Linked DNA regions of Homo sapiens. The protein of the gene in region 1 purifies or fractionates together with the protein of each later gene. This does not show direct contact. Each region holds a gene or a part of one and is shown in the gene's direction. Other genes may lie near its edges.

Region 1 (3,620 bases):
GCTGGGCTTCAGCAGCATTCTTCCCCACCCCTGGGGTGGCAGGCAGGAATGGGCTGCCTGGCATCTTACTGCTCAGGCCCTTCCCCTGTTTCAGAGCCAACTATTCCCTCCTCTTTTCACAGAACCAGGAAGGCAAGAACAGGTGCTCAAGGCAAGGCCAGGTCAAAGTGATCATGTATGCCCTGTGGGTAAGGCAGAGCATGGGGCTGAAGGGGGCAGCAGCAGCTCAAGGTCACCCAGCAACAGGGGCTGGGCAGGCAGCTCCAGCAGAGCCACAGCTCACCTGGGGGAGAACTCAGGCTCCTTCCTCTTCCCTCTCCCACTTAGACCTTCTGTGTGGAGCCATTAATAAGTAACTTGGTCATTTCTGAGACTTCCTGAAGTAGGTTTTCCAGACTGTCCAGGCTATATCTTGGGTCTCTCTGGGCCTTGGGGAAAGTGAGGCTCTTTCTCTAATTGGCCTGAATTAACCTGTGAGCCCAGGACCAGGGGAGGGAAGACCAATGCCACTCTGCCACTCTGCTGGCTTTGCCTGGGTTGGGAGCCAAGACTTTGGATCCTGGCTCAGTTCTACTCCTCTCTTTTCCCCTATCTGGGCCTCAGTTTCCTGATCTGTAAAATGAGGGACAGGACTCATGTCATTGCTGCCACCTTAGCTGGGACGCTGCCCAGGGTGGAGAGTGAGTGGGGCGGGGGACAAGAGGTAGGAGCAGGGGTATCTCCCTCCAACAGTTCCTGGGCCAGCCTCCCAGGGTCACCCCAAAGGGCACTGCAGCAGGAATAGGGGCAGGCCTGGGAGGGTAGAATCTGGGAGCTGGCACTGGTCTCTGTACCCTGTCAGCTCAGTGCAGTTCTCTGGGCCCAACATTGCTCTTTGGGGAAGCCAGGGCCAGCAGGGAGGCAGTGAGCACCTGGGAGGGGTGGCAAGTGGCCAGGGGAAAATCCCAGAGAGTGAGCAAAGGAGGATGAAATGTCACATCACATGGACTCCTCGTGGCAGCCCCAACCTCATGCAGAGCTTGTTATCCCCATTTTACAGCAGAGGAAACTGAGGCTCAGAGGGGCTAAGCATAAGTGGCTTGCCCAAGCCACATCTCTGGGAAGTGGCCAAGGTGGGCCTAGAACCCAGTATTCTGATTCCAGATCGCACTCCATCCTGGATGCCAAAACTGTTTTGACATGGTTATTCCATAATTTTTAATTATCCACATTCCTAGAAGGGGCTATTGACCAAGCCATTTAAAACAGGCAATAAATGTATTTCGGTCTGGCTCTGGGATGTGTCTGGGACTTCCTTTTCCTTGGCAACAGCATATCATTCTAAAGAAATTTGTTCAGGCTGATGTTTGGAATGCCCAGGCACAGCCCTATGGAAGCAACTGGGGAGGGTGGGCAGCCTGGGATCTACAGACAAGATTTCCTGTGATACAGATGTCCCCATTTATTGGGAACAGGTCTCCATCGCCCTAACCTCCAGGCCTATCAAACTAAAATCACAGTCCAGGGAGATGCAGGGAGGGGATTTCCCAGGCGTGGTTCTCTCCAACCTCCCTTTTCCGTCTTTTCTCTCTTTATCCCTCCCTCCTGCCTGTGGCTGAGCCTGGGACAAACCATACCTCCAGTGGGCACCTAGTGTCCTTCTCAAGAATGACAGGTGAAAGGAGACAAACAGCAGTGAACAGGACAGAGATGAGACCTGGACAGGGCTTCCTGACCCCTTCCAGCCCTTACTGACCCCTTCTCTTTTTCCCAATCCCCACTGTACACCGGGCACCTTCCTGGCAACCCGTCCCTACATGATTCTTTCTCTGCCTCTATCTCTGTCTCCCCTATCAGATAAACTAGCAAAACTCCCACATCGGCCTCCCAGCAGTGCCCAGTCCCTTCTACCAGGCCACCCCATGTGGGCTGGCAAGACAAGCGTTCCCCAAGCACTGCGCCGGTCACTAGCCACGTCCAGGAACCTGGGTTGAGCGTCTCTGCAGAGCCGAACATGGGGCCAGGCATGGCTTCCACAATGAACAGGCAGAGGCAGATGCCTGGGGAAGCTGGTGGTGGAGCCAGCAGTGATGCTCGCGAGCATGTGGATCTCTGCTAACCCCCGCAGAGGGGTGTTAGAGGCGCATGTTCTAGAGACCGCAGCTGCTCTCCAGTGCTTCCTAGCCTTGCCATTCAACGCTCTGCAGAATCTGGCCTCCTATTCTCGGCTGGCACTCCCCTCTCCAGCCTGGCTGGGTCCGTGGCTCCTTCCTCTCCCCTCCTGCATTTGCACCTTCTGAGTGGAGCCATTAGCGAGTAACTCAGTCACATACCCATACACATGCACCCACATGTGCACGCACACACACTCCTCCCTGGAAAAGCAGCATAGCATAGGGACTATCAAGCCAGAAGACCTTGGTTAGAGTTCAGGCTCTGTCTGCTGCTATCTTAGCTTTTCTCAGCCCGAGTTTACTCACTGGTCAAATGGGCACAACGACAAAGCCTGCTTCATAGCCTTGTCATATGAACCAAGTGACAAACGTTAGCAGTTGTCAGCAGACCGTAGTACTCGCTATCATCCTGGTTTCCTTTCCCATACCTCTGCGCAGCCCCTGCCCCTGTCAGTTTACTGATCCCAGGTCCCGTTCCCCTCAGGACTTTGCTGCAGGATGGATGACTTCACTTTCCTGCAGGATTGAAAGACAATAATGATAATGAGCTAGTTCTTCGAGAGAGTTTTTGCACTTGCCTTGGGGCATCCCTGCTTACGCAAAGTGGTGAGTGAGGTGGTAGAAATGTCATGTCCTGGTACCCGTGTCAGTAGAGGGACCTCTGAGAGTGCAGACAGGGGACTCTCTGGCTATCCCTGAAGTCAGGCCACCTAGGAGGCTGCCTAGTCTGTCTTGTCCAGGGAAAGGGAGGGGAAAGAGAGAGAACTATGATGAGCAGCCTGCTGTTTTATCAGCCCACGGTGTGTGTTAGCATTGCCTCCCCATGACGCACTCTCCCTCCATCTCCTAACAGCTGGCCTTGAGGTTGGTCCCCCTCTCCTCCCCCATGAGTTCTGAGCTGGGAACATGCTGGGGTCATGACTGTCATGATCGGTAATCTCCCCAGCAGATCAGCCTGGAAACAAGAAAGGAGAAAGTAACGAACTGCTCTATCAGCAGAGCCATTCTGATAGAGGATTTAATCAAAGATGGGGCAAGATGAGATGGCTGAGGGCCAAGGCCAAGAGCCAAGGGGGTCAGGGGCAGAAGCTCTGGGAAGACAGCCTGAGTGATCACTGGGGCCCTCCTCTTTTTTTTTCAGTGTGAAACTCAGAGAGGCCTTTCCCCCTCCCCTCTCTCAGCTCCCACCTTTCCAGGTCCAGCAGCCACACTGGAGGCTGATGGGGTGGGGGGCTCTCTCCCTTTTCATAATCTGAGAAAGTTCCTCTACAACCTCCAGAACCTGCCTGCTGCCCAATCTCTCCTCTCTGACATTAGACTTTCAGACTGGTCTCAGAAAATACAAGTCTTTATCCTTTCTCTGAGAGTCTGGTTATTGGGCAGAGTGTCCCAAAAAAGACCTTGACAGAGCCTTAGACACTCCATCCAATCATTCATTCATTCACTGATAGGGTAGCAGGCCCTCCC
Region 2 (3,620 bases), on another chromosome or scaffold:
CTTCTCAAGTGTTAACCACTTTCCCACATTTACCTTACCATTTTCTTGAATTATATACATGTGACTATACTTTTTTCTGACCTATTTATAGAAAAAGTTGCAGACATGATGCCGTATTACTACCCTTTAATGCATCAGTGTGTATTTTTTCAAAATAAGGTTAGTCTCCTGTGTATCATAGTACAATCACCATCAGAAATTTAACATCAATACAATATTATCATCTAACTCCAGGTCTCATTCAAATTTTGCCAGTTGCCCTAGTGATGTCCTTTTATGTGTTGAATTTAGTTGCCATGTCTCAACTTGGAAGTTTCTTAGTTTTTCCTTGTTTTATATGACCTTACTTTTTTGAGTACAAGTCAGTCAGTTTGAGTTTGTGTTGTGTTCCTTCATAATTACATTCAGCTTATTCATTTTTGACAGGACTGGCACAGAAATGTTGCTGTGCTGTACTTACTGTATCATTACATTAGGAAGCATACTACAGTATCAATTTGTGTCATTATTGGAGATGCTCACTTCTATGAGTTGGTTAATACAATGTCAGCCTGGTTTCTTCAGTGTACAGTTAATTATTAACTTTTTGTGGAAAAATACTTTCAGATTGCTACTACAAAAGAGTGCTTTCCCTTCTGCATTTTTTTATTTTTTAAAAATTATTCACTTATATTAGTGTAGATTCATGGATTCCTATTTTATTCAGAGGATTATAGTCTTTATTATTATTTGGTTTGATGCTCAGATTGTTCCCAACATGGCCAATGGGACCTCTTTCAAGATGACCCGTGTGTCCTTTGGACATGTCCCATGCCCTTTTGACATTCTCTGAGCACTTCCTATTTGATAGAACAAGATGTTCCAGGCTGATCTTGGATGATTCTTGTCCATCCCAGGTGTCAGTCATTTCTCCAGGAAGTCCTGGTTCCTTTTAGTGGAGAATAGTATTGAAACGAACACAGGTATACTAGGTATGCTTTTCACCACTTGGATAGGAAATACATAGCCACATACACACACCCCCACACACAAGCACACGTCTCTGTACATTTCTAAAATGTCTGTTTCTCTATATTGAATTACCATGACATCACACTAGTTTCTTCAGTTCCAGTTCAGTACCACAAGGTTTATTTTTAACTTTCTGTATTTGTAATTCCCTTCTCCAACAGTGTTGGAACCTGCTCACATTTTGCTCAGTGTATTTACTTATTTGCTTGATTCTCAGTGTATGTAATCAGTCTCCTGGCTGAGCCAGTTTGTTACACTGCGCCCTGCCCTCACTCCAACTGGTCACACAGGCTGAGAAAGTTTGGGTTGATGAAGGCAAAGGGAAAGGAAAGGATATCAGCTGGGCATAGTGGCATGTGCCTATAATCCCAGCTACCTGGGAGGCTGAGGCAGGAGGATTGCTTGTGCCCAGGAGTTTGAGTCCAGTCTGAGTAACATAACAAGACCCTGTCTCTTAAAAAAAAAAATGGCTGGGCGTGGTGGCTCACGCCTGTAATCCCAGTAGTTTGGGAGGCCGAGGTGGGTGGATCACGAGGTCAGGAGTTTGAGACCAGCCTGACCAACATGGTGAAACCCTGTCTTTACTAAAAATACAAAAATTAGCCAGGTGTGGTGGCGTGTGTCTGTAATCCCAGCTACTCAGGAGGCTAAGGCAGGAAAATCTCTTGAACCCAGGAGGCGAAGGTTGCAGTGAGCCAAGATCATGCCACTGCACTCCAGCCTGGGCAACAGAGCAAGACTCCATCGCAAAAAAAAAAAAAAAAAAAAAAAAATATATATATATATATATATATATATTTTATATATATATATAAAATTTAACGTGTACAGAAAGATCTTACCATAGATATTTTACAACAACTTATTTTTAAGACTTCTTCAAGCCTGAAACTATAGTACGGCTTCTGAGTTTTCGTTCTTTTAGATTTTTAAATACTGAATATTAGATTTAATAATTAAGTTGTTAATGGAATATTTGACATATTGTCTGGGAAAATTTTAGAATTTCACATATTAATACATATTGTGCTATCTATAATTAAAATTAAATATTGTATGTTTTTTTCCTTTAAGTTAGTAGGGCTGTTTGGGAAGAAATGGTGAATGCCTGCTGGTGTGGTCTTCTTGCTGCACTCTCACTCCTTCTTGATGCCAGGTATTAAGTCTTTGTAAGTTTTATATTGAACTGTGTCAGTTAAAAAAAACACATTAAAATGGTTTACTTACATTTGTCCCTAGAATTATTTTCTAATATTAGTTTTTTATATGTGTGAAACATTATTCTTTTTCCCTCATCCCCCTTCCTCATTCTGTCCTTGCCCTGCCCCAAGCCACCAGAATTGTCATGATGTTTTAATGGAAAATACAGTCCTAAAATTACAGAATGCCTTTTTCATTTCAAGACTTACAACTACTTTTGCAATTATGATTATATTTAATTTCTTTGTTCTTTTTCTTTAGGATTTAAAAATTTACTGGTTTCAAAATGCTTGATATTTTAAGCTAAATCTTTATGTTCTTGGTCATTTTCTTCAGTAATAAATACATGTATTATTATTCATTGCTTTTACCCAGTTCAAATTTTTGAGGTTATGTTAATAGATTAAAATTCCTTCTTAAGTATATTGGTAATATTTTGACAATATTTTTGTATAGATTTTCTTAAAATGTCACTGAATACTTAATTCCACATCATGCTTTACAATGTAATTAAAAATAAGTTAATCAGATTAAATAAAATACTTTCTTTTCAGCACAGATGAAGCTGCCACTGAGAATATTTTAAAAGCTGAACTGACTATGGCTGCTCTTTGTGGAAGACTGGGCCTTGTAACTTCAAGAGATGCCTTTATAACTGCAATATGCAAAGGTTCCCTGCCTCCCCATTATGCTCTTACTGTATTGAATACCACCACTGCAGCTACACTTTCCAACAAATGTAAGACAGGCTTACTCAAAATTCTCTCTATGTAGTGGGATGATATGGTGTAGACAGAAGATTATAAACATCTGAGTTTAAGTCTCTGCTTTTTCACATACTGACTGTGTGACCTTGGGGAAATTAATGTCCCTGAGAGCTCTTTAAAAATATGGGGTGGGGGGTGGGGGGTGGGCATGGGATATCCAAAAATCCAGAATCTAAAATGCTGCAAAATCTAAAACTTGTTGAGCACCAACATGACAAAGGAAAGGCTCATTGGATAAGTATATAATGTGAATAGGTATATAATGCAAACATAAGTATTTACAAATATATTATGCAAATAAATGCATAAGTATATATAATATAAATATTCAAAAATCTGAAATCGGAAACAGTTGTGATCCTAAGCATTTCGGATAAGGGATACTCAACTTGTAATACCAATTTTAAACAATAATTGTGAGAGGAAAATAAGATAAATCTGGAAGTCCTTTGTAAACTATGAGATACCATTGAAATGGTGATTGTTATTTTTTTTTAATGGAACTAGTAGAACAGTAATGTTTGTAACCACTTAGGTTAAACTTACATTCAAAAATTTATTTTCTTGTTGAATTCTTTAAGAATACTTGTTTGTTACATGTAATATAAATTTCAGTGTAATATTTAGGGTTTTTTTGTTTAT
Region 3 (3,620 bases), on another chromosome or scaffold:
GCAACCCCTGCCTCCGGGGTTCGAGTGATTGTTGTGCCTCAGCCACCTGAATAGCTGGGATTACAGTACGTGCCACCATGCCTGACTAATTTTTTTTTTATATTTTTTAGTAGAGATGGGGTTTTGCCATGTTGTCCAGGTTGGTCTCGAACTCCTCACCTCAACTGATCTACCTGCCTCGGCCTCCCAAAGTGCTGGGATTACACGTGTGAGCCACATATCCAGCCACAAATCAGTATTGTGTGCCATCATAGTGGATCTGATGAGCTTAAGGTTCAGTTTCTTCACTATGCTTATATGCTCACTCTAAGAAGAGGTTGGCAAACTTTTTCTTTCCCTTTTTTTTTTTTTTTTTTGAGGCAGGCTGGAGTGTAGTGGCACCATCACAGCTCACTGCAGCCTCCACCTCTCTGGACTCTGGTACTCTGGTGATCCTCCCACCCCTGCCTCCCGAGTAGCTGGAACCATAGGCACATGACACTACTCCCGACTAATTGTTGTATTTTTCTATAGAGACAGGATTTTGCCATGTTGCCCAGGCTGGTCTTGAATTCCTGGGCTCAAGCCATCCACCTGCCTCGACTTCCCAAAGTGTTGGGATTACAGGCATAAGCCACCATGCCTGGCCAACTTTTTCTATAAAAGGCCAGACAGTAGCTTTGTGGGTCATATGGTCTCCTCAACTCTGCTGTTACTGCACAAAAACAGCCTTAGACACAGGAACAGCTACAGTAGCTATATCCCAATAGAACTTTTGTTATCAACACTAAACTTTGAATTTCATATAATTTTCACTTGTCACAAGATATTCTTTTGGTTTGTTTCAAACATTAAAAATGTTAAAACCATTCTTAGCCAAACAATGTCAACAGGTTGATTTTTACTCCTAATGCAGAGTAGATATTGGTTCTTCCTTCACCGTCATCCTAGATTCCCTTATCCTTTTTCTTGGATCAGATCTCCTGTTTCCTGAGTTCACATATTCCTCATTTTGTGGTTTACCCCCTCAGTTTGATGGTGTACTTCCTTTAGTATTTTCCTGAGAGAATGTATGAAGAAGTGAGAATTTTTTAGATTTGTAACCCTTAAATGCCTTCAATCTTGTCTCTCATTTTTGACATTATGGGCATGTAATTCAAGAATAGAAATTCTAGGCCGGGCGCAGTGGCTCACACCTGTAATCTAAGCACTTTAAGAGGCCGAGGCGGGTGGATCACTTGAGGTCAGGAGTTCGAGACTAGCCTGACCAACATGGTGGAATCCCGTCTCTACTAGAAATACAAAAATTAGCTAGGCGTGGTAGCAGGCGCCTGTAATCTCAGCTACTTGGGAGGCTGAGGCAGGAGAATTGCTTGAACCTGGGAGGCGGAGGTTACAGTGAGCCGAGATCACGCCATTGCACTCCAGCTTAGGCAACAAGAGTAAAACTCCATCTCAAAAAAAAAAATAAATAAAAAGAGAATTCTAGCTGGATGCAGTTGCACATGTCTGCAGTCCCAGCTACTTGTGAGGCTGAGGCAGAACAATCACTTGAGGCCAGGAGTTTGAGGCTGTAGTGCACTATGATTGCACCTGAGAAAGAGGCCAGGTGCAGTAACTGACGCTTGTAATCCCGCTACTTTGGGAGGCTGAGGCAGGTGGATTGCTTGAGCTCAGGAGTTCAAGACCAGCCCGGGCACCATGGCAAAACCTTGTCTATAAGAAATACAAAAATTAACTGGGCGTGGTGGTCGAGTCTGTAGCCCCTGCTACTCGGGAGGTGGAGGTGGGAGGATGGCTTGGGCTGGGGAGGCAGAGGTTGCATTGAGCCAAGATCATGCCTCTGCACTCCAGCCTGGAAGACAGAGCCAGACTCAGTCACCAAAAAACCAAAAACAAAAACAAAAAAAAAATGGAAATTATTTTCTCCTAAGATTTTGAAGGCATTGCTACATTTAAATCTAGTTATTGGCTGGGCGTGGTGGCTCATGCCTGTAATCTCAACACTTCGAAAGGCCAAGGCAGGCGGATCACCTGAGGTCAGGAGTTCAAGACCAGCCTGGCTAACATGGTGAAACCCCATTTCTACTAAAAATACAAAAAAATTAGCCGGGCATGGTGGCGTGAGCCTGTAATCCCAGCCACTCGGGAGACAGGCAGGAGAATCGCTTGAATCCTGGAGGCAGAGGCTGCAGTGAGCCAAGATCGTGCCATTGCACTCCAGCTTGTGTAACAAGAGCAAAACTCCATCTCAAATAAATAAATAAGCCTAGTTATCTAGTTTTCATTTGCTGTGGAGAAGTCTGAATTTCTTCTGTTTCATAAACTTTTGTATTTACCATTTTTTTCTTCCTCTCTATAAACTGATGTTTGGTTCACCCCGATACATTGAAACTTCACAGTGATGTGCCTTAGTATTGGTCTATTTCATGTACTGTGTTGGGTACTTAGTAGGCCCTGTCAATCTGGTAACCCGTGTCCATTAGTCCTGTAAATTTTTCTTGAATTCTTTAATTGATGATTTCTTCCTCTCTCTTTTCTCTGTTCCTTCATTTTGGAACTCTCATTAATCTTCTGTTGGACCTCTGATTTTCTGACCTTTTGTTTTCTATTTTGTACCTCTGTCTTTTTGTTACTTTATAAGAGAATTCCACAGTTTTATCTTTTCTATCAAAGTCCAGTCATGAAAACAGAAACCAGGCCAGGTTCGGTGGCTTACGCCTGTAATCCCAGCACTTCGGGAGGCTGAGGTGGGTGGATCATTCGAGGTCAGGAGTTCCAGACCAGCCTGGCCAACATGATGAAACCCCATGTCTACAAAAAATATATAAAAATTAGCCAGGTGTGTTGGTGCGCCTGTAACCCCAGCTACTTGGGAGGTTGAGACATGAGAATCACTTGAACCTAGGAGGTGGAGGTTGCACTGAGCTAGGATCAAGCCACTGCAATCCAGCATGGGTGACAGAGTGAGACTCTGTCTCAAAAAAAAATAATAATAATAATAGTAAATCCCTTCTTTTACTATGTTTTTGGTGGAGTTTGCAAAGAGGAAAAGGAAAACCTGATATATGTTTTCAGTCTGTCGTCTTGGTACAGAAACCATCAAGGCTTTCTGTTTTCAGAATTACAGCTTTTTATAAGGGTGAAAAAAATGGAAATGTCCATCAACAAGGAATTATCTAGATAAACTGGTACAACCACAAAATGAAATCATAGCCACTAAAACTAATGCTATGAAAGAATAATACCATAAAAATGTTCTTAATATGTTAAGTGAAAAAAATTAAAAACCACATGTACAAAATGATTTTTAAGTATATATATATTTTATATGGAAACAGTATATACTAGCACATAGTAACAATATATATCAGCGAAGAAAGGAATACACCAGAAAGTTAAGCATGCTTATTTCTGAGTGGTGAAATGATAGAAAATGTGTAATCAGATTTTTTAAAATGCCTAAAGACAAAAGTTCCCAAGGAGTACCTAAGATCAAGCAAGTCTTCTTGCTGGGGCCTCATTATCTTACTATCTTCCCTGATTGGGTATGAGTATCACCCTGTTCTGCAGGGTTACCAGGTTCGAGCCTGTGTTCAAGGTGGTCTGAAATGTTACACAAACCCACAGCCCTTCTCCCT
Region 4 (3,620 bases), on another chromosome or scaffold:
CTTAATATTTTTCAAAATTCATATCATGCACTTGTACTCCAATTTTAATCTCTTTAGGGAACTTACATGATATAATTAAAGACTTGAAATACTCTCCTGTGTAACAGTAGATCAGATAAGGTACACAGTATGTTTTATCTTTTATAATCACCGCTTTAATAGCAGATGTGCTATTAAATAGGAAAAGTGCCCTTCACGTGCCATTTTATAATTGCATATTATAAAATGATCACACCCTTAACTCATCCTCTGCAATTTCTCAGTAGTATGGCACTTGACAAAGCACTTGCTCTCATTCTTCATAATAACCCCATGAAGGCTGCGGGGCATTTTTGTGTTGTTGCTGCTGTAAGAAAACAGGTTTGATTATCTAACTGATGGAATTTATATTTATTTAACCTATTTTTAGGAATGACCCCAAGTTGCATATATTCGGAAGCCTGCATTTAATGTTTTAACTGTTTTTCTATTAAGTTTACTGATTTGTTATAGGTTTGCAACTCTCAGAATATTTTGTTTATATTAGCAGGGCATTGAGATTGTTTATTCTAAATGCATTTTTTTGTTTTGCAATCTTATAGGCCCTGGCCTATTTTGAGCAGTTAAAAATTTCCCCAGATGCCTGGCAGGTGTGTGCAGAAGCTCTAGCCCAGAGGACATACAGGTAATTAAAAACAAAATTTGCATGACAATTTAAATTTCTGTGGACATGACAGGACTGTGAAATTTACCTGTATTTGGAAAGTGTTTTCATAAAAACATTTTATGACTTTTTTTTTTTTTTGCAAAGCCATTAACATATAGTCATTCCATGTAGAAATGAGAAAAGTAGTAAACCCAGTTTGGCCATTTCAGAATTAACTTTTCAGTAAAACCATCCTTTGGTATATATTGTGTACCTGTCACCAGATCCCAGCTGGAATAAAGTGCAGTAAAAACTTCCTTATCTTATGATTGAGGGTGATAACTGCTTTCCTAAAACTTTGGTAAAGACGGTGATTGTAAATGATATATATCTTAATTTTAAAATTATTTATTTATTTTATTATTATTATTATTATTTTCTTGAGATGGAGTCTCGCTTTGTCGCCCAGGCTGAAGTGCAGTGGCGCAATCTAGGCTCACTGCAAGCTTCGCCTCCTGGGTTCTTGCCATTCTCCTGCCTCAGCCTCCTGAGTAGCTGGGACTACAGGTGCCCATCACCATGCCCGGCTAATTTTTTTGTATTTCTTTTTGGTGGAGACAGGGTTTCACTGTGTTGGCCAGGATGGTCTCGATCTCCTGACCTTGTGATCCGCCCGTCTCGGCCTTCCAAAGTGCTGGGATTACAGGCGTGAGCCACCGTACCCGGCCTATATCTTAATTTTTAATTTTAACTTAAGGTATATAATCATTCGGTGACCAATCTTTTAATATTGGACCACAGTCTTTATCTTTGTATACTAACTAGCATTCACTTTATTCGTAGGTTGGTCACACCTGTAACCCATCCTCTACAATTTCTAGCATGGGTCTCTGTACAATGAGTGACGATCCATAGATTTTTAAGATATTTGTCCCCGCCTCTCAAGTCTTCTGGTTATATAGGCCATGTCAAATATGTACAAGATTTTTTCCTTCTGCAGTGTGGCTTTCTATGAAATCTTTCTAAAGCATTCAACTAACTTTTTACGGAAATAGGAACTCTCTTATACTCACTTCATTGGCAGATTGTTGGTCTCTAGAAGATCTTTGTCAGTGTTTATAGCTGGCTAACTGCAACTCTGCCACTCCCCTAGAAAGACAGTTGGAAGTGGGTAATTGGTGTGTTGACTTTTGCCCCCATCTTGTATAAGCAAGGGTACCATATTTGTAATTTAGTGTCCTGTACGAAACTTTGAAGTTGGACTGACAGTCCATGTGGCCCTGCTTGTTTTGGATTTGGCTACAATAGAACTACTGGGGTTGAATTTTAAGCAGGACTTGGACGACCATCTTTACTTTCACTCAGACTCTGTCTGTTCTGCCATTTGTAATTTTACACCTAACCTGTTATTGTAAAATGAAGGGACTGTTCCAGGAATCTTAATATCTGGAATTTAGAGGGATGGTTTGCTGCTTACAAAGCATTGTATTCAAGGTGCATCTTAATATCTTGGTTAGTTTGCTTGTCAGATTTAATGGAAATTTTAAATATTGTGTAATATTTAGAGTTCTCATAGCTTTTTAAGTAAATGGATTTTAATGTCATAAAATGAGACCAGTAAGTATGAAACAAGCCAAAGGTCTAGTTTGAGAAACTTTTCTGCTGTATTACTCATTACTATTTTGCCTTTGATTTGTTTTCCTCAGTTCATATTCTGCTTATCTCATTTTCTTTTTTTCTTTTTCAGTGATGATCATGTGAAGTTTTTCTGCTTTCAAGTACTGGAACATCAAGTTAAATACAAGTAAGGCTTTTCTTACTGTTTTGACTCAGATTTGCGGGGAGAGGTCATTTTTTTAATTTAATGTTTTTCTTCCATAAGGAAACCATAATACAGGTTGTAAATTCACAGTGTATATGTTATATCCAGGTTATAGATACGTTTTGATGTACCCCAAAGTGTTTTAAAAGTGCTGAGTTGGCCAGGTGAGGTGGCTCTCGCCTGTAATCCGAGCACTTTGGGAGGCTGAGGCCGGTAGATCACTTGAAGTCAGGAGTTTGAGACTAACCAGCCTGGCCAACATGGTGAAACCCCGTCTCTACAAAAAATACAGAAACTAGTCAGATGTGGTGGCATGCACCTGTAATCCCAGCTACTCAGGAGACTGAGGCACGAGAATTGCTTGAACCTGGGAGGCGGAGGTTGCAGTGAGCCGGGATCACACCACTGCACTCCAGACTGGGTGACAGCGAGACTCCGTCTCAAAAATAAAAAAAGTGCTGAGTTTGTTGGTTACACATAAAAATCCAAGGCTGGGCGCAGTGGCTCATGCCTATGATCTCAGCACTTTGGGAGTCCAAGGCAAGAGGATCGTTTGAGCTCAGGAGTTTGAGACCAGCCTAGGCAACATAGTGAGACCTCATCTCTACAAAAATTTTTTTAAAAAATTAGCCAGGCATGATTGCGCGCTTCTGTATTCCCAGCTACTGGGGAAGCTGAGGCCAGGAGGTTGAGGCTCCAGTGAGCCATGATGGTGCCACTGCACTTCAGCCTGGGCAATACAGCAAGACCTTGTCTCAAAAAAAAAAAAAAAAATGAAAATCCAGATATTTCACAGAAAAATCTAGATTTCCAGCTTTTCTGGAAAAGTCAGAATATCTGGTAACACCAGGCCTGTTTTTCTACATGACAATTCTCTCTTAGAGTTAAGTAGCTGCATGGGCACTTGTGTTCAGAATCTCTGACTTACTAATTAAGCAAAATAACAAATCACTACTGAGAGGATTCCTAGTTCACCTATTGGTTTATTCTGTAGATCACAGACCACAAAACATTTTCATTCGAAAAATTGTGTAGCCATCATTTGTTTCAACATGAACAGAATCACAAATTAAAGATTGATATTGATGCCCTACCTGCCACTCTTGTCCTTATCTTTAAAGCAATGATGAGTGGCATTATCAGTTTATGTTAGGGAACTTCAGATAATTGAGA

What was found. The genes of interacting proteins can lie anywhere in the genome.
Region 2: the proteins of SLC60A1 (region 1) and MON2 purify together in Homo sapiens (affinity purification with mass spectrometry; 2 studies listed by BioGRID and IntAct, with this or other methods). This does not show direct contact.
Region 3: the proteins of SLC60A1 (region 1) and MMS19 purify together in Homo sapiens (affinity purification with mass spectrometry; 2 studies listed by BioGRID and IntAct, with this or other methods). This does not show direct contact.
Region 4: the proteins of SLC60A1 (region 1) and XPOT purify together in Homo sapiens (affinity purification with mass spectrometry; 2 studies listed by BioGRID and IntAct, with this or other methods). This does not show direct contact.

The regions. Positions count from the first base shown.
Region 1 is NC_000001.11:205,575,411-205,579,030, forward strand, and holds part of SLC60A1 (major facilitator superfamily domain-containing protein 4A), read left to right. Parts: intron 1-3,620.
Region 2 is NC_000012.12:62,532,760-62,536,379, forward strand, and holds part of MON2 (protein MON2 homolog), read left to right. Parts: intron 1-2,085; coding exon 2,086-2,167; intron 2,168-2,765; coding exon 2,766-2,950; intron 2,951-3,620. UniProt on the Homo sapiens protein: Plays a role in regulating membrane trafficking of cargo proteins. Together with ATP9A and DOP1B, regulates SNX3 retromer-mediated endosomal sorting of WLS away from lysosomal degradation.
Region 3 is NC_000010.11:97,470,869-97,474,488, reverse strand, and holds part of MMS19 (MMS19 nucleotide excision repair protein homolog), read left to right. Parts: intron 1-3,620. UniProt on the Homo sapiens protein: Key component of the cytosolic iron-sulfur protein assembly (CIA) complex, a multiprotein complex that mediates the incorporation of iron-sulfur cluster into apoproteins specifically involved in DNA metabolism and genomic integrity.
Region 4 is NC_000012.12:64,414,326-64,417,945, forward strand, and holds part of XPOT (exportin-T), read left to right. Parts: intron 1-581; coding exon 582-664; intron 665-2,372; coding exon 2,373-2,429; intron 2,430-3,620. UniProt on the Homo sapiens protein: Mediates the nuclear export of aminoacylated tRNAs. In the nucleus binds to tRNA and to the GTPase Ran in its active GTP-bound form. Docking of this trimeric complex to the nuclear pore complex (NPC) is mediated through binding to nucleoporins.